3 separate regions of the Homo sapiens genome follow, and regions 2 and 3 are each linked to region 1. The links come from fine-mapping of genetic effects on gene expression. A gene starts in region 1. Each other region holds a variant in brackets. All regions are shown on one strand. Distances are from middle to middle.

What was found. PIP is the estimated chance that this variant, and not a neighbour inherited with it, causes the effect.
Region 2: its variant is fine-mapped to the expression of FOXRED2 in whole blood (INTERVAL, PIP 0.97).
Region 3: its variant is fine-mapped to the expression of FOXRED2 in sigmoid colon (GTEx, PIP above 0.99).

What each region holds. Positions count from the first base shown.
Region 1 is chr22:36,505,514-36,508,269 of GRCh38, forward strand. FOXRED2 (FAD dependent oxidoreductase domain containing 2) reads right to left here and starts at 1,527. Exons shown (of 9, transcript NM_001102371.2): 1 at 1,496-1,527; 2 at 383-910. The coding sequence starts at 909. RefSeq lists a silencer at 1,274-1,773.
Region 2 is chr22:36,458,220-36,460,975 of GRCh38, forward strand. No RefSeq gene overlaps it. Among named protein-coding and RNA genes, the nearest start is that of TXN2, 22 kb to the right of the region's middle. The variant C/T (reference allele first, on the strand shown) is at 1,055.
Region 3 is chr22:36,477,179-36,479,934 of GRCh38, forward strand. All of the region lies in intron 2 of TXN2 (thioredoxin 2), which reads right to left. Among named protein-coding and RNA genes, the nearest start is that of TXN2, 3.1 kb to the right of the region's middle. The variant C/T (reference allele first, on the strand shown) is at 1,374.

The sequences.
Region 1 (2,756 bases):
ATCCCAGCATTTGGGGAGGCTGAGGTGGGTGGATCTCCTGAGGTCAGGAGTTCGAGACCAGCCTGGCCAACGTCGTGAAATCTCATCTCCACCAAAAATATAAAAAAATTAGCCGGGTGTGGTGGTGCTTGCCTGTAATCCCAGCTACTGGGGAGGCTGAGGCAGGAGAATCGCTTGAACTAGAGAGGCGGAGGTTGCAGTGAGCTGACCTCGTGCCATTGCACTCCAGCCTGGGCGACAGAGTGAGACTCCGTCTTAAAAAAAAAAAAAAGCGAAATACCCTTTTTCGTCCATTCCTCCCATACCTACTGGCCAATCAAGGTGTGTGGTTCGTGTGGGGAAGGTCCCAGCTTCCGCAGGTGAGCTCTGGCACCGGCCTTACCTGCACTGATGCACCTGGCCCTTCTGGTCAGTTAGGATGAAGTAGTGGCCATTCCAGGCCTGTCGGTCCTTGTCCAGAGTGACGTGGGCGATGGTGGTGTTGTACTGGACACGGAGCCCCAGCGTGTCCGCGAAGTCACCCAGGTAGCGCACCATGTCGCGGGCGTCGGGGAAGTAGGCACGCGAGTAGTGTCTGAAGAGCAGCCGGGGGTCGTGGCTGAGCAGAGAGTTCCAGTCGTGGCGGAGGTTGAACTCGGCGTTAGCCTTGCCCGTGTACCGCTTGTTGATGCTGATGAGCTTGCGGTGCCGCGGGTAGCGTGTGAAGAAGCTGCCGGGCCGCGGGGCCCGCTCGAACACTGCGTAGTCGCGTCCAGCGCGCTGCAGGAAGTAGGCCATCTGCAGGCCCGCGGGCCCAGCGCCCAGCACGCAGTAGTCCCGGCGCGGGGGCACCGACAGCGCTGGGTGCAGGGCGATGGCCAGGAGCAGCCCCGGGGGACCCCACAACGGGGCCGCAGCGGAGAGGCCCATCCTGCAGCAGATCAGAGGGGTAAGGCCTCGCACCCGGCCCGGCGGCTGGGAGACACGAGGCCCAGAAAGAGGCGGGGCCTGCGGGAACTCTCACTGCAATCTGGGTCACGGCCAGGCCCAGAAGCCGTCCTCAGAGCTCATTTGCCCGGACTCCACCGTTTCAAGCTGGGACTTGGGGCTCCCCGGAATCCCGAGCCCCTCCATCTTATCTCCCTCAGGGTCTCCTTCCTCAGGGGCACCGGCTCCCCGCTTATGATTGTAGTAACCTCCACCCTGGGGAAGGAGAGCGTACTCCCCAATTTTCCCCTAATTTGAGGGTGCCCAACACCCCTTTGAACCACCCTCCAGGTTGGACCTTCCAGAGGCCTTGGCCCCTCTCCAGCGACCGGGTGGGAGCCTGAAGTGGGTGTGGCCTGCGTGCGCCCCGCCCCCTGCCAGGGTCCGCGCGCCCCAGGCTCTTCGGCCACGTGACAGGGATGCCGCGCACACCTGCCGCCCGCCCGCGTGCGCTTCAGGAGCCGCCAGGTCCCTACGCCCGCAGCTCCGGCCTCCCCGCCTCCGACCGAACCCTGAGAAACGCGCGAACCTCCCAGCCGCTCCGGCTGCAACCCGTGGTCTAATGAGGCCGCGCTTGGCTCGCTTGCTCCGCGGCGGCTCCGCCCCTCGCGCCCGGACCAATGGCAGGGGGCGGGGTCACGTGCGCGGCGCGCGGCACGCCGGGACCAGCTGGCAGGCTGCCTGCTCCGGCCCAGCGCGGGAGAGGCGCGCGCGTGCTGCGTTCGCTGCTCCGGGGGCTGGTAGAGGGGCCTGGGGCTAGCGCGCACCCGCGAGGGTGGAAGGTCTGGAGATCCGGGATGGGGAACTGGGTCCTTCGTTTTAAAAGGTGCCTCTCTACACGGAGGGAGGGGAGCACGTGATTTTTGGAGCTAATCCTAGCTCTCATATTCCATGAATGTAGCCAAACGCTAAAACTAGTTGGCCTACCCAGTTTTGTGGGACTGGAAACCAGCGTGGTGGAGCCAGGACCGATAAGCCAATTAACAAGCGTTTGCTACAGTGACTCAGTGTACTGCTTACCAAGTAACATACACGACTGTCCTAATCTTCCACCAAATAGGAGAGGTGGGCAAGGCATTGTTTCCGACATTTGGTAGCTGACTGGTCAAATGGAGACATAGGGATGAAGGGATATGTTTACAATCACAGGAAGTGGAGCCTGGAATTAAAACTCAGTGGAGGCAAGATAAATGGCAGGAGGAAGATAACGTGAACTGGATGATGAAGGTTGGCTTCCCAGGGGTGGCAAGTGGCCCCTGCATGAGATTTACATGGGGAGAAATACGAAGTCAGTGTAGGAACCTTCAAAGTCCAGTGAAATGGGGCTGAGTGTTCTTGGGGGAAGGGCAGGTGGAAAGAACTGCGAGCCTGCAGATTTGCATGGCTGGAGATTCTTTGAATTAAAAATCGTAGCTGGGGACTCCTTAGAAAAATTTTCCTGACCTCTCAGGCCTACAAGTACCTACCAAAGAATGTCATTTACTTTTTCTTTTTTTTTTTTTTTTGAGATGGAGTCTCACTCTGTCGCCCAGGCTGGAGTGCAGTGGCGTGATCTCGGCTCACTGCAAGCTCCACCTCCCAGGTTCACGCCATTTTTCTGCCCCAGCCTCCCTAGTAGCTGGGACTACAGGTGCCCGCCACCACACCCGGCTAATTTTTTGTATTTTTAGTAGAGACAGGGTTTCACTGTGTTAGCCAGGATGGTCTCGATCTCCTGACCTCGTGATCCGCCCGCCTCGGCCTCCCAAAGTGCTGGGATTACAGGCGTGAGCCACCGCGCCTGGCCGAAT
Region 2 (2,756 bases), 47 kb before region 1:
TCTGCCCCTCCTTCGGGGGCTCCTGTTCTTGTGGGCTGAGAGCTGCAGCCCTGCAGCCGGCCTGGCTGTGGCTCAGTGGTCAGGGCCAAGTGCAGAGCAAACACCCTGCCCACTGGGCAGCCATTTCACGGTCATTCCCAGGCTGCATGGGGTCCCCAGTCGGGCAACTAAGTGCAGATGTGAAACAACGAGCTTTCCAAGATCCAGGGATTTGACCCTTGGGAAAGAGACTCCCTAAGGGAACTGCTTCCTGTCACTCCCCAACCACCACTTTGAGAAATAATTTTCTCTCCCTCAACCTCACTGCCAGCCTCAGTCAAGAGCAAACCGAGGACTGGTAGTGGGAGCTCAGGGCCACCTTGGGATTCTCTGCTCTCGCTGCTGGCTGAGCCCAGGCAAGGCCCCTGCCCTCTCTGGGCTTCCATTTCCCTCTCCTGCTCCAAACTTGCTAGCTTCCTTCCCTATCTCAACATCATAGGGACCCTTCGAGATGGGAACTACTAATAGGGGAAATCATATGGGAAACCAGGCTGGGCGCAGTGGCTCACACCTATAATCCCAGTACTTTGGGAGGCCGAGGTGGGAGGATCACCTGAGGTCAGGAGTTCCAGACCAGCCTGACCAACATGGTGAAACCCTGTGTCTACTAAAAATACAAAAATTAGCCGGGCGTGGTGGCAGGTGCCTGTAATCCCAGCTACTCAGGAGGCTGAGAGGTAGGGGAATCACATGAACCTGGGAGGTGGAGGTTGCAGTGAGCTGAGATCCTGCCACTGCACTCCAGCCTGGGTAACAGAGTGAGACTCCATCTCAAAAATAAAATAAAAAATGACCATATCCTTATAGGAACCATTATTTTGAACTCAGAATCTCAGAAAAACCAGGATTTGGGGCCTGGAACTTTCTTTGTCTTATTTTGTTTTGTTTTGGATTTTTTGGGGAGACAGAGTCTTGCTCTGTCACCCAGGCTGGAGTACAGTGGCGCGATCTAGGCTTACTGCAAGCTCCGCCTCCCGGGTTCACGCCATTCTCCTGCCTCAGCCTCCCGCCACCA[C/T]GCCTGGCTAATTTTTTGTATTTTTAGTAGAGATGGGGTTTCACCGTGTTAGCCAGGATGGTCTCCATCTCCTGACCTCGTGATCTGCTCACCTCGGCCTCCCAAAGTGCTGGGATTACAGGCGTGAGCCACCGTGCCTGGCTGGGGCCCGGAACTTTCTAAGGCAGAGGCGGCAGAGACAAAGAGGTGGCTGGAGGTGGGGCAGTGCCGAGCCAAGTCTCAGGACATCCCTACTGCCGAGCCTCCCCTCCCACAAAGTAAACCGGCAGGTGGGCAGTGCAGGCGGGGCCCAGCTCGGGTTTCACTCCTTCCCCGCTCTCGGGGACAATAAAATGCTCCCTTTGCCCTGGAAATCCCACTTGTATAAAATCCAAAAGAAGAAATAAGCTCTTATGTTCAAACAGGTTTGTTCCAACCTCATTTATAATGGAAAAATATTAACTGAAAAATTCCTTAGTATCCGACAATGGGGGAGAAGTTAACAGTTTGACCGGAGCTGAGTGACATGCAAAAGGGTGTTTGTGGAGTGCAGGGAGCTCCTGCTGTGTGTGTGGGAGGGTGGAGAGGGCATGGGGAGAGGAGCAGGGACCCCAGAGTCAGACTGTCTAGGTTTAAATCCTGTCTGCTCCTTCCTAGCTGTGTGACCTTGAGTCATAACCCAAAGCCCTCTGTACCTCCATGTCCCCCTCCATAAACTGGCACTGGGCTGGGCATGGTGGCTTATGCCTGTAATCCCAGCATTTTGGGAGACCAAGGCAGGTGGATCACCTGAGGTCAGGAGTTAGAGACCAGCCTGGCCAACATGGTGAAACCCCGTCTCTACTAAAAATACAAAAATTAGCCAGGTGTAGTGGCAGGTGCCTGTAGTCCCAGCTACTCAGGAGGCTGAGGCAGGAGAATCGCTTGAACCCAGGAGGCAGAGGTTGCAGTGGGCCGAGATTGTGCCACTGTGCTCCAGCCTGGGTAATAGGTGACAGAGCGAGACTCCGTCTCAAAACAAAACAAAACAAAAAAAAGGAGAGAGAGACTTGGGGGATGTGTGTGCCCAGAGGAAAATCCATGTGAGGACCCAGCAAGAAGGTGGCCACCCGCAAGCCAAGCAGAGAGGCTTCAGGAGAAACCAACCCTGCCAGCACCTTGATTTTGGACTTCCAGCCCCAGAACTGTGAAAAAATAAACATCTGTTGTTTAAACCACCCAGTCTGTGATATTTTGTGATGGCTGGCCTAGCAAACTAATACACATTACTAACACACAATAAGAGAAGCGTTTAATAGGGCGCTTACCACGTAATTGCATTGTGTTCTGACATTACATTTACGATCTCATAACCATGAGGAGGGTCCTGTCCTCCCATTTCAGAGATGAAGGAAACTGAGGCTTGGCTAGTGACGGAGAGGGCTGTGACTGGAGCCAGGACTGTGTGACTCCAAGGCCCCACCAAAGCCTCCTCCTGGGATGGACCATGGACTTTCCTGCCTCTGTGCTGTGCATACGCTCTCCCTTCTGCCTGGAATACCCTTCCCACCACTTGCCTCTCAGGACGAGTCCCAGTCGATTCTTCAAAACTCTTCTTGGCCCGGCAAGGTGGCTCACACCTGTAATCCCAGCACTTTGGAAGGCCAAAGTGGGTGGATCACTTGAGGTTAGGAGTTTGAGACCGGCCTGGCCAACATGGTGAAACCCTGTCTCTACTAAAAAT
Region 3 (2,756 bases), 28 kb before region 1:
AACCAGCTGATTATTCTGGGGCCCTAGTTTCCTTTTTTTCTTTTTTTGAGACGGAGTCTCGCTCTATCCCCCAGGCTGGAGTGCAGTGGCGCGATCTCGGCTCACTGCAAGCTCCGCCTCCCTGGTTTACGCCATTCTCCTGCCTCAGCTTCCTCAGTAGCTGGGACTACAGGTGCCTGCCAACACGCCCAGCTAATTTTTTGTATTTTTTAGTAGAGACGGGGTTTCACCGTGTTAGCCAGGATGGTCTCGATCTCCTGACCTCGTGATCCGCCTGTCTCGGCCTCCCAAAGTGCTGGGATTACAGGCATGAGCCACCGCGCCCGGCCTGGGCCCTAGTTTCTTCATCTGAAAAAGAGAGATTATGGCTCTCAAAGCTATTAGGAGAGATCAACTAAGGCAATGTGGGTAAACATGCATTGGAAGCTGTGGGGATATTTCAAACACCATGTGGACTCAGAACTAAAAGGAGGGGAACCAATGGCCTGGAGCGTCTACAACGCACCAGTCCCTGGCTCACTTTCTCTGCTTTTACCAAACACACCCCTCAACTCTGCAAAGAGAACACACCTTCCAAAGAAACTGAAGCCCATACGAGTTAAGAAACCTGTGCAAGATTAGAGAAGCACAGCTGGGATCGATCACAACCCAAAGCTGTGTTGAAAGTGTTTTCTTTGGCCGGGTGCGGTGACCCACGCCTATAATTCCAGCACTTTGGGAGGCCGAGGCAGGCGGATCACCTGAGGTCAGGAGTTCAAGATCAGCCTGGCCAACATGGTAAAACCTCGTCTCTACTAAAAATACAAAGATTAGCCAGGAGTGGTGGTGTGCGCCTGTAATCCCAGCTTCTAGGAAGGCTGAGGCAGGAGAATCACTTTAACCTGGGAGGCAGAGGTTGAAGTGAGCTGAGATTGTGCCACTGCACTCCAGCCTGGGCGACAGAGACTCTGTCTCAAAAAAAAAAAAAAAAAAAAAAGAGAAAGTGTTTTATTTCACCCACAGGCTACTCTGATCCCACAGCCCCTGAGTTGACCATTATCACTGCCCTGATCATAGGTATTCCCCTCTCGCTGGGGAAGCTCATCCAGGACAGGCCTGGTGCTGTCATCTCTATGTATGTGGCACCAAGGAAAGTGCCTGGCACTGAATGAACAACTCACACCACCCCACTTCCTTACTGAACAAAATGAGGCATTATCCCATTTATTGTTCATTTCGGAAGGCCTCTCTGGAATGCTCACTACACCAGGAGGCCAAGACAGTTCCACCTTTCACAAACCCCTGGCTGACAACTCCTATTTTATTCTCAGCACTTACTTATTTATTTTTGAGATGGAGTCTCACTCTGTTGCCCAGGCTGGAGTGCAATGGCG[C/T]GATCTCGGCTCACTGCAACTTCCGCCTCCCGGGTTCAAGCAATTCTCCTGCCTCAGCCTCCTGAGTAGCAGGTGTGGTGGTGCACACCGCACCCAGCCAGGCCTGACGGTTTTAAATGCTGAAAAATAGGCCGGGCATAATGGCTCACACCTGTAATCCTAGCACTCTGGGAGGCCAAGGCGGGAGAGAATCACCTGTGGTCAGGAGTTTGAGAGACTAGCCTGGCCAATATGGTGAAACCCCGTCTCTACTAAAAATACAAAAAAATTATCTGGGTGGTAGTCCCAACTACTTGGGAGGCTGAGGCAGGAAAATTGTTTTAACTCGGGAGGTGGAGGTTGCAGTGAGCTGACTGAACCACTGCAGTCCAGCCTGGGTGACAGAATGAGACTCTGTCTCAAAAACAAAAAAGGAAAAAAAACCCTCAGGCCTGGCGCAGTGGTTCATGCCTGTAATCCTAGCACTTTGGGAGGCCAAGGTGGGAGGATTGCTTGAGATCAGGAGGTAGAGACTGCAGTGAGCCGTGATCGCACCACTGCACTCTACATTCTAGCCTGGGTGACAGAGTGAGACCTTGTCTCTAAAAGAAGAAAAACAAAAACAACTCATAACACTGAAAAACCCAGTGTGCAAGACCTTATCTCCTATTACAAGTGAAGAAAGGGAGCACAAAGATATCAAGTGGCCTGCCCAAGGCCACAGGGTGAGTCAGAGAAACAACTGGAAAGCCAGCGAAACAATCTGTCAGAGACCTGACCAGAAGGCCCTTCAATTTCTTTTTCTTTTTTTTTTTTTTTGAGATGGAGTTTCCCTCTGTCACCCAGGCTGGAGTGCAATGGCGCGATCTCAGCTCACTGCAACCTCCACCTCCCAGGTTCAAGCGATTCTCCTGCCTCAGCCTCTTGGGTAGCTGGGATTACAGGTGCCCGCCACCACGCCCGATTAATTTTTGTATTTTTGGTAGAGATGGGGTTTCACTATGTTGGCTGGGCAGGTCTCAAACTCCTGACCTCAGGTAATCCACCTGCCTCGGCCTCTGAAAGTGCTGGGATTACAGGTGTGAGCCACTGCGTCCGACCTGAAGGCCCCTGAATTTTTAACTTATGCTACACTGGTTTCTCCCAGGATGCCTCATTCAGAGGGCTTTGTCCAGCTTTTGTGTAGTTGGGTGTCTAGCCAGGCCCCAAAGATCTAGAAATGAAAAAGCCCAGGCTAAAATTCAGAAGGCCAGAGGGACTTAAATATCTCTAAAGCAAACTCAGATAGCACTGAAAGGAAACTCCTTCCTATGCCCTGTATGCTTGGGCACCACGGTAGTGACACCGATAACTTTTTTTTTTTTTTTTTGAGATGGAATTTCACTCTTTTTGCCCAGGCTGGAG